Linked DNA regions of Homo sapiens. The protein of the gene in region 1 purifies or fractionates together with the protein of each later gene. This does not show direct contact. Each region holds a gene or a part of one and is shown in the gene's direction. Other genes may lie near its edges.

Region 1 (2,368 bases):
CAGCACTCCGGCCTGGACCAACAGAGTGAGACCCCATCTCAAAAATATAAAAAAAAAAAGAAATATGTTACATACCAGGCCTCCTGGGTTTGATATTAACATATTTACTGTAACTCTGTATCTTTTGTTTTTTGTGTTTTTTTTGAGATGGAGTCTTAGTGTGTCTGGAGTGCAGTGGCATGATCTCGGCTCAGTGTAACCTGTGCCTCCTGGGTCCAAGCGGTTCTCGTGCTTCAGCCTCCCGAGTAGCTGGGGGATCACAGGCATGTGCCACCACACCAGGCTAACTTTTGTATTTTTGGTAGAGCTGGGGTTTCCCCATGTTGGCCAGGCTGGTTTTGAACTCCTGACCTCAAGCAATCTGCCCACCTTGGCCTCCCAAAGTGCTGAGATTACAGGTGTGAGCCACTGTGTCCAGCCTGTATCTTTCTTTAGGACTGTCCCCTACCTCCTTTACTCTCTAACAGATTTCTGCTTATCCTGGTGAATCCTATTTAAGGGAGATGGAAACAAACCTGGAGGTTGATTACAAACTGCAGAGGCTGAGAAGGGCAGCTTGCTGGCTTTCAGCCAGTACTCTCTCTTGGCTAAGGGATATGGGACTTTATGTGTACATAGGCAGCAAGGCCAGCCTCAGAAGGAGGGGCCAGGCTTCCTGCAGTTTCACAGCCACCACTCCAACCTGGGTCTCATGTCTGTGTCCTTTGTTGTAGGAAGGAGGGTGATTCAGAGTTCATGAATATCATTGCCAATGAGATTGGGTCAGAGGTAAGAGGAGCATGAGATTCTCTACCCCGGCCTGGATAGAGACCTAGGGAGACATAAGTGAGGGGCGCTAGTTTAGCCAAAGTCCCTCCACATGAACACATGAGGAGGAGGAAATAGCCATTCATTCAATACTGTTTTCTTAGTACTAGCTATATGCCAAGCTCTGTTTTAGGTGTTGAGCTAGATCTATGTTATTGCTCTCTCTGGGGCTGTGATGTTTATTAGCTTCTGAGCTCCTTTCATCAGAGCTCTAGCTCCTCAAAGCCATTCAGGTTTATGTGTGCTGGGGATCCAATATTAGAAATATATCAGTGGGCTGGTCGCGGTGGCTCACGCATGTAATCCCAGCACTTTGGGAGGCCAAGGTGGGTGGATCACTTAAGATCAGGAGACCAGCCTAGCCAACATGGTGAAACCCCATCTCTACTAAAAATAGAAAAATCAGGCCAGGCATGGTGGCTCACGCCTGTAATTCCAGCACTTTGGGAGGCTGAGGCGGGTGGATTGCCTCAGCTCAGGAGTTCGAGACCACCCTGGGCAACATGGTAAAACCCTATCTCTACTAAAATACAAAAAATTAGCTAGGCGTGGTGGCATGCGCCTGTAATCCCAGCTACTCGGGAGGCTGAGGCATGAGAATCTCTTGAGCCTGGTAGGCAGAGGTTGCAGTGAGCTGAGATTGTGCCACAGCACTCTAGCATGGGCTACAGAGTGAGATTCTGTCTCAAAACAGAAGACAAAAATTTGCTGGGTGTGGTGGCAGGTGCCTGTAGACCCAGCTACTTGGGAGGTTGAGGCAGGAGAATTGCTTGAACCCTGGAGGCTGAGGTTGCAGTGAGCCGAGATTGCGCCACTGCACTCCAGCCTGGGCAACACAGACTGTCTCCAAAAAAAAAAAAAAAAAGTAAATACAGGAGTGGGCAAGCCCCTTTGAAAGCCATCCCCGTCCATTTTCCTCTTCCTCTGGCTTTACTTACTCTTCCCACTCCTGATGGTCTCTAGCCTAGAGATTTCCAGGTCTTTTGTTTGTTTGTTTGTTTGTTTGTTTTTTTCAGAGACAGAGTCTTGCTCTGTCACCCAGGCTGGAGTACAGTGGCGTGATTATGGCTCACTGCAGTCTTGAACTCCTGGGCTCAAGCAGTCCTCCCACGTCAGCCTCCTGAGTAGTTGGGACTGCAAGCATGAGCCACCATGCCCCACTATCTCTTTTGTATTTACTCCAGAACCCTTCTTTGGAATGCCTACTGTGGGTAAAGCGTTGTGTATCTCTCTTTTCATAATTCTTCTGTATAGACAGAACTGATTCTCAAGAAGCTCATATTCTAGTCTGGGAGACAAATATGTATGTCGACATTTATAATTCAGAATGATAGAGTGATGAATGCTAGAGGTGGAGGAGCACATTACCTGAAGGATAGGGAGGTTTCAGGGGAGGGGCCCTTGAAGACTGCTTAGAGGTCATCAGACAGACAAGGGGCAGAGGCGGCCAGGCAGAGGGAAACCTGGTGGTTTAGGCAGTGGCAGGGAAAGGATGTGTGGTGGGGAAAAGTTTGCAAGAGTGAAACCATGAAAGGCATTTTCTGCTTAGCCAGGATCAGCA
Region 2 (3,654 bases), on another chromosome or scaffold:
TTTTGATTGCAAATGGCTTCGTGCTTTGTTTTGCAGCTTTGGAAGCTTCTTAAGGAACAGCAGTTCATTGAGACATAATTTTAAAAATGAGGTTGAATTAACACTGTTAATGCACAAATTCTAAAATTTCAAATATGGCTGGTAGCATTGGATCTGAATGCAGACTTTGACCATGGCTTAGAGTGGTTATATTTTATTTGGGAATTTTAATGGTTTAGAATGCCTTGATTTATGTCTTGTGTTATGTTTTTATTTAAAAAGAAGGCACTTTAAAAAATTCCAACCCTTTCATAGTGGTATTGATACAATGATACACTGTTTTTCTTGAAAATGTGATTAATGGCCAGTTTTTCTAATTGTTTCTATAGGATTTTTGTGAGCATGGAACAAAGTCTGGGTTAAACCAGGGGGCCATTTCTACTCTTCAAAGTAGTGATATTCTTAATTTAACAAAAGAACAACCTCAGGCCAAAGCAGGCAATGGACAGAACTCTTGTGGAGTAGAAGATGTCCTTCAGCTTCTGCGTATTCTATATATAGTTGCAAGTGACCCTTATTCAAGAATATCCCAGGAAGGTCTGTAAGAAGCCTTGTTTCATTTCTATAGCAGTTTTAAAGCAAGTCAGTTTATATTTTTATTAATTTTATTAATTAATTTTATAGATGGTGATGAACAGCCTCAGTTTACTTTTCCACCAGATGAATTCACTAGCAAAAAAATTACAACAAAAATATTACAGCAGATTGAGGTAATAAAATCAGACAGCTGAACTCTTCATTCTATTACTGTTGGACTTTTCCTAATATTCCCTTTACTTTCTTTTCTACCTCTCACCATCTTTCCCTTCCCTCTGATTGGTAATTTGAGCTATATGGTCCTTTGCATTTATTTCCTAATTACAGGTTTATAATTGACTTGGTAATTTTTAATAATTGCCTTATAGGGTCAGGTGTGGTGGCTCATGCCTGTAATTCCAGCATTTTGGGGGCCAAGGTGGGTGTATCGTTAGAGGCTAGGAGTTCGAGACCAGCCTGGCCAATATGGCGAAACCCAGTCTCTACTAAAAATACAAAAATTAGCTGGGCACGGTGGCACATGCCTATAATCCCAGCTACTTGGGTGGCTAGGGCAGGAGAATCGCTTGAACCCAGGAGGCAGAGGCTGCAGTGAGCCGAGATCGTACCACTGCACACCAGCCTGGGCAACAGAGTGAGACTCTGTCTCAAAAAAAAAAATGAACGAATGAATGAATGCATGCATGCATGAATGCCTTATAGCACTAAGACATTATTATTTGTTAATTCGCAGGAACCATTGGCACTGGCAAGTGGGGCTCTGCCAGACTGGTGTGAACAATTAACCAGCAAATGTCCTTTTCTAATACCATTTGAAACTAGACAGCTTTATTTCACATGTACAGCATTTGGCGCCTCAAGGTAAGAAGCCTTTTTTTTATGTTTTTAGAATAAGTATGCTTTTATGTTATGTAAGTTGAAAATGTACAACTATACTGTCAAGACTGATAGAGGGAATATATTATCTTGTATTCTTATAAAGAATAGTCAGCATTGCCTTTTGGCCTGAACTACCAATCTTCTAGTAATTCGCCAAAATGACTAATCCAAAGGAAAGGAGGAGAGATACCCGATAGATGTTTTCTAGGTCTTTTAGAAAACATGGAGTTGTTCCTTTGGCCACGTATATGCAAATCTAAAAGAGAGGTGATACTGTAGACATTAAGGGAATGGGTACTGTTCAAAAAGGAATGCCCCACAAGTGTTACCGTGGCTAAACTGGAAGAGTCTACAGTGTTACCCAGCAGGCTGTTGGCATTGCTGTTTTTTTGTTTTTGTTTTTGTTTTTGTTTTTTTGAGACAGAGTCTCGCTCTGTCGCCCAGGCAGGAGTGCAGTGGTGTGATCTCGGCTCACTGCAACCTCCGCCTCCCAGGTTCAAGCGATTCTCCTGCCTCAGCCCCACTGAGTGGCTGGGATTACAGGTGCACGCCACCACGCGTGGCTAATGGCATTGTTGTAAACAAACAAGGGCAAGATTCTTACCAAGAGAATTAATGTGCATATTGAGCACATTAAGCACTCTAAGAGCCGAGATAGCTTCCTGAAACACATGAAGGAAAATGATCAGAAAAAGAAGGAAGCCAAAGAGAAAGGTACCTGCATTTAGCTGAAGTGCCAGCCTGTTCCACCCAGAGAAGCGCGCTGTGTGAAAACCAAGGGAAAGAAGTCTGAGCTGCTGGAACCTCTTCTCTGTGAATTCATGCATAATAGTGTTTAAAAAAAATAGCCAGGCGCGGTGGCTCACACCTGTAATCCCAGCACTTTGGGAGGCCGAGGCGGGCAGATCATGAGGTTAGGAGATCGAGACCATCCTGGCTAACGTGGTGAAACCCCATCTCTACTAAAAATACAAAAAGTTAGCTGTGTGTGGTGGTGGGCACCTGTAGTCTCAGCTACTTGGGAGGCTGAGGCAGGAGAATGGCGTGAACCTGGGAAGTGGAGCTTGCAGTGAGTAGAGATTGTGCCACTGCACTCCAGCCTGGGCGACAGAGCGAGACTCCATCTCAAAAAAATAAAAAATAAAGATAAAAATAAAAGACCTCTGGACTGTAAAAATGTTTCTCTTCCTTGAGTAGAAGTGTGGTGTCCTCTCCCCCAAAGAAATACTTCAGGCAAATTTTAATTTTGTCCTAAGCCTAATTGTGTAATGTCTTTACTATTCAAATTTAATGTATTTCTTGCTGAAAGATGTGAGATGGCTTATTGTGCAACAAATTACTCAATTGGTTAGAAAATGGTCAGATATTATTTACGAAATATTTGTACTACTTTGAAGATAGTCCCTCTAATCATGGAAGAAGTAATTTACCAAAAAAAAAAAAGCATTTAAAAAGTTTCTGTTTTCAGGCTGGGCACGGTGGCCCATGCCTATAATTCCAGCACTTTGGGAGGCCAAGGCAGACACATCACTCGAGGCCAGGAGTTCGAGACCAGCCTGGCCAATGTGGCAAAACCCCATCTCTACAAAAAAACACAAAAATTAGCTGGGCGTAATTCCAGCTTTTTAGGAGGCTGAGGCATAAGAATTTGCTTGAACCCGGGAGGCAGAGGTTGCAGTGAGCTGAGATTGCACCACTGCACTCCAGCCTGGGCAACAGAGCAAGACTCATTGTAGGTGCTCAATAAATATTTTGTTGAATGATTGTTTACCTTAAGTACTCTTCCAAAATAGTTGTAAAAAAAAAGTTATAATTTAAACTGTTTGTTTTCTTCCCTGATAGTTACATTTTTGTACCATTTAATGCCATTTACAAAGCATTTATATACATAGAACTATAGGCATGTTGTGATAACTGGCATTGATTATAATTTGTTTTATAAATGAGGAAATTGATTCTGCACGTACTTAGCTGATTTGCCTAAGATCATGAGAAAATAGTAGCACACATGAGAGTAGAACCTTCAGCTTCTTATTCCTAATTGTCGGTTCTTCCTCCCACCATAAATGGATTGTTATTAAAAAAAAGAAAATGTGGCCGGGTGTGGCGGCTCATGCCTGTAATCATAGCACTTTGGGAGGCTGAGGCGGGTGGATCAGTTAAGGCCAGAAATTCAAGACCAGCCTGGGCAACATGGCA
Region 3 (3,654 bases), on another chromosome or scaffold:
TGTCCCCCTAGGCCTTCGATGTGGTGGAGAGGAGCTTCCTGGAGTCCATTGACGACGCCTTGGCTGAGAAGGCAAGCCTCCAGTCGCAATTGCCAGAGGTAATTTCCCCAGCCGACACCCAGGGGAGTCAAGTCCAGGCCCAGCTTTGCAAGGAGCATGGACTCATCTACTTTCTTGACATTACTGGGCCAGAGCAACAGGCGTTAGGGAGCAGTTCCTGATGGGTGACACTGGTGTGTGGCCACAGGTGAGGGACCTCGCTGCTCTGCTGTGGGCAGCTGCATGCTAAAGCTCAGCAGTGTCTGGGCAGTGGTGGACATGAGGAAGGGCTTTTCCCAGTCCTTCGTCCTGAATGGGTCCCCGCCCTTGTCAACCACCTGCTCACATCGCCTACTGCCACCTGCAGCGCTTACCTCTGTGCTGTGAGTTCGGTCATCTCCAGCTTTCTGGAAGAACCTTAGCCTGGAGCTGTAGCGAAGGCTTCATCTTGGCTGTGCCATGGACCATCTGTCTGTCTGTCCCCCGGGCCCTCGGATCTTTGCTCTTAAGAGCAAAGGGAGGCCGGGCATGGTGGCTCACGCCTGTAATCCCAGCACCTTGGGAGGCCGAGGCGGGCGGATCACAAGGTCAGGAGATCAAGACCATCCTGGCTAACATGGTGAAACCCCGTCTCTACTAAAAATACAAAAAATTAGCTGGGCGTGGTGGTGGGCGCCTTGTAGTCCCAGCTACTCTCGAGGCTGAAGCAGGAGAATGGTGTGAACCTGGGAGGCGGAGCTTGTAGTGAGCCGAGATCATGCCACTGCACTGTAGCCTGGGGGACACAGCGAGACTCCATCTCAAAAAAAAAAAAAAGAGTAAAGGGAGTGGAGAGGGCTAGGAAGATGGTCCAGAGTTCTGTCCTGCCCTGACCCTCTGTTGATGGTTGTAGGGAGTCCCTCAGCACCAGCTGCCTCCTCAGTATCAGAAGATCCTTGAGAGACTCAAGACGTTAGAGAGGGAAATTTCGGGAGGGGCCATGGCCGTTGTGGCGGTCCTTCTCAACAACAAGCTCTACGTCGCCAATGTCGGTGAGCCCCCTCCTGTCCCAGGGCAGGGAGGACTGGGGAGAGGTCAGCCACAGGGGTCGGTGCATTATTTGACAATCTGCTTTCCAGACACTTCACGCACTTTAAACCCAGGGTCTCCTGAGACCGTTGGGTATGTCCCTCTCCACAGTGACGCCTCAGTCCCAACTGGAAGGGAGAAAGGACGGGATGGGAGACAGGTGTCCTGGCCTTTAGTCCCTATTCTGCTTCTTAACTCATTCTGGACGAGTCGTATCCCATTCTGGGTGGCCTTGGGGGCCGCTGCTTCTGGAAGAGGTTACCTGGCCATGAATAACCAACCAGTATCCCCATGAACAGCTGCGAGATGGGGCTAGGTGACAGGGACATTGGGGTTTGTGAGAAGACCAGACAGGTGCAGGTTTCAGTAGAAAGGACTCTGTAGAGACCCTTCTGATGATGCTGCCTTTTTTTAATACTCCAGTGGAAAATTTTCCACAATATAGAACAATAGAGTGACTGATATTTAATGAACATTCATGCGCCCATCCCCAATCCCAGCAGTTATCAACTGTGGCCAGCCTTCTTTGTCCCCACGTTCTCTATTTTGAAGCAAATGCCAGACACTGTATCATGTTATCTGTAAATATTTCAGTCTGTATCTCTAGAGAAGAGGTCTGTTTTATTAAGATCATAATCCTATGATTACACTGAAAAAGTTAAACCCAATTCTTTCGTATCACCAGCTGTCCCTAACTGGTGACTCACCCCGTTGGTCTGAGCCTGTTTTGCCCATTTCAGGTATTTCCATGTGTGAAATGCCTGCCTTTTCCCTCTCTGCCTTCCCGGTATGCCCTATTTCTCTCTGTGTGTAGTCTTTGCTTAGCTGTTCACATTCTGCCACAGGTACAAACCGTGCACTTTTATGCAAATCGACAGTGGATGGGTTGCAGGTGACACAGCTGAACGTGGACCACACCACAGAGAACGAGGATGAGCTCTTCCGTCTTTCGCAGCTGGGTGAGTGGGGAGAGTGGGAGCGGAAGCTGATCCCCATGGGCTCACCCTTCGCCTGCCTTTGGTGGTGGGGTAGAGAGGCGTGTGGTAGAGGGGCTGTGATCTTGGGCTCCCCAGCCAGCCTGCCTGGGGTTCATTCCCAGCACTGCCGCTTACTGGTTGGTGATTGGAACTTAAGTTTTCTGTGCCTCAGATCCCCCGCTGTGTAATGAGGATAATAGTAACCTACCTCGGGATGCTAGGAGGATTCAGTTAGTGCATGTGAAATGCTTCCTGGAGTGCCTGGCACACAGAAGACACTTACTGTTATTGGTGGAGACTGAAAGAGGCCAAAGAAGTCCAGGGAGCCCAGCTGCTGCTGAGCTGCTCCTTCCCTTCCCAGTGAGCTCCAGGCAGATGTGGGGCACACGGGATGGGCAGGGAGACGGCAGGCAAGCTGCTCCGTGCCAGGTGGTGCCTGGAGGACGGGCTCTGAGTGAGGTGTGTCGTGATGGGCGTGGGGACTGAGGACACCAGGGACTTTGGGTCAGCTGCTCTCCCAGGTGCCCTGGTGTTGTCTTCATTTCCTATTCAGTGGGTCCTTATTGCCTTCTTCCCATGACTGTGTCTCTGTCCCCTTCTTTTTGTTCCTCTTTGTGAACAAGAAGCAGGATTGTTGCACTGTTTCCCTCCGTAGGCTTGGATGCTGGAAAGATCAAGCAGGTGGGGATCATCTGTGGGCAGGAGAGCACCCGGCGGATCGGGGATTACAAGGTTAAATATGGCTACACGGACATTGACCTTCTCAGGTAGGTGCCAGCCCAGCTGTCCCCTGTGCTTGAAAGAACAGAAGGTCCTAGGGAGGCCAAGATGGGAGGATTGATTGTGCTGGGAGGTCGAGGCTGCAGTGAGCCGTGATCATGCCACTGCACTCCAGCCTGGGCAACAGAGCAAGACCCTGTCTCAAAAAAAAAAAAAGGTCCAGAAGGCCTGGGGCAGACGCAGACTGTAGGCCCCAGTGACACATGTGCAGTCAAAGTAGTTCAGAGCCCAGGCAAACTCTTTCTTCCTCCCAGAGAGGTTGGTTTGGGGCAGGTTAGGCCCAGCAGGCCAGGAGTTGGGTACTGTAGAAACAAGGGGTGGAGTTGAGCTGGGCCAAAGCTGAGGGCAGCAACTAGTGCCACAAGGGAGGCAGGCGAAGCCAGAGTTGGCATGGGATGGACAGACCAGGCCTGTTGGTCGGTGCTGCCCATGGCTGCAGCAGAGGTGTGAGATGAATTGTGTATTTCCCTCTGAGGACACCTCCTCTGGACATCACCCCAGCGCTCATGGCAGCAGAATGGGCAGTCATCATCACACGGCCAAGCCCGTGCAGAGCTCTGGATGTACCTTCTTTTATGCATTCCCTACTCAGGCCCCCTGAGGCAGTCACTGCCATCACCCCAGAGGCATTTTCATAAGAGGAAACTGAGGCATGGAGACATCAGGCAGCCCACCCTGGTCATGGGGCTTGAACACAGGCAGCCTGAATTTGGAATATGTGTCCTTAACCGTCAGGTAACCTGTATGTGAAGTGTTGGTTGGGGAGATAGGCGCGTCCACTTGCCTGATG

The links.
Region 2: the proteins of AARSD1 (region 1) and HECTD1 purify together in Homo sapiens (affinity purification with mass spectrometry; 3 studies listed by BioGRID, with this or other methods). This does not show direct contact.
Region 3: the proteins of AARSD1 (region 1) and TAB1 purify together in Homo sapiens (affinity purification with mass spectrometry, with the first as the bait; 2 studies listed by BioGRID). This does not show direct contact.

What each region holds. Positions count from the first base shown.
Region 1 is NC_000017.11:42,952,124-42,954,491, reverse strand, and holds part of AARSD1 (alanyl-tRNA editing protein Aarsd1), read left to right. Parts: intron 1-713; coding exon 714-768; intron 769-2,368. Other genes in the region: PTGES3L-AARSD1 protein, read left to right, coding at 714-768. UniProt on the Homo sapiens protein: Functions in trans to edit the amino acid moiety from incorrectly charged tRNA(Ala).
Region 2 is NC_000014.9:31,110,199-31,113,852, reverse strand, and holds part of HECTD1 (E3 ubiquitin-protein ligase HECTD1), read left to right. Parts: intron 1-368; coding exon 369-576; intron 577-663; coding exon 664-749; intron 750-1,309; coding exon 1,310-1,437; intron 1,438-3,654. UniProt on the Homo sapiens protein: E3 ubiquitin-protein ligase which accepts ubiquitin from an E2 ubiquitin-conjugating enzyme in the form of a thioester and then directly transfers the ubiquitin to targeted substrates.
Region 3 is NC_000022.11:39,416,780-39,420,433, forward strand, and holds part of TAB1 (TGF-beta-activated kinase 1 and MAP3K7-binding protein 1), read left to right. Parts: intron 1-11; coding exon 12-98; intron 99-931; coding exon 932-1,070; intron 1,071-1,952; coding exon 1,953-2,066; intron 2,067-2,739; coding exon 2,740-2,851; intron 2,852-3,654. UniProt on the Homo sapiens protein: Key adapter protein that plays an essential role in JNK and NF-kappa-B activation and proinflammatory cytokines production in response to stimulation with TLRs and cytokines.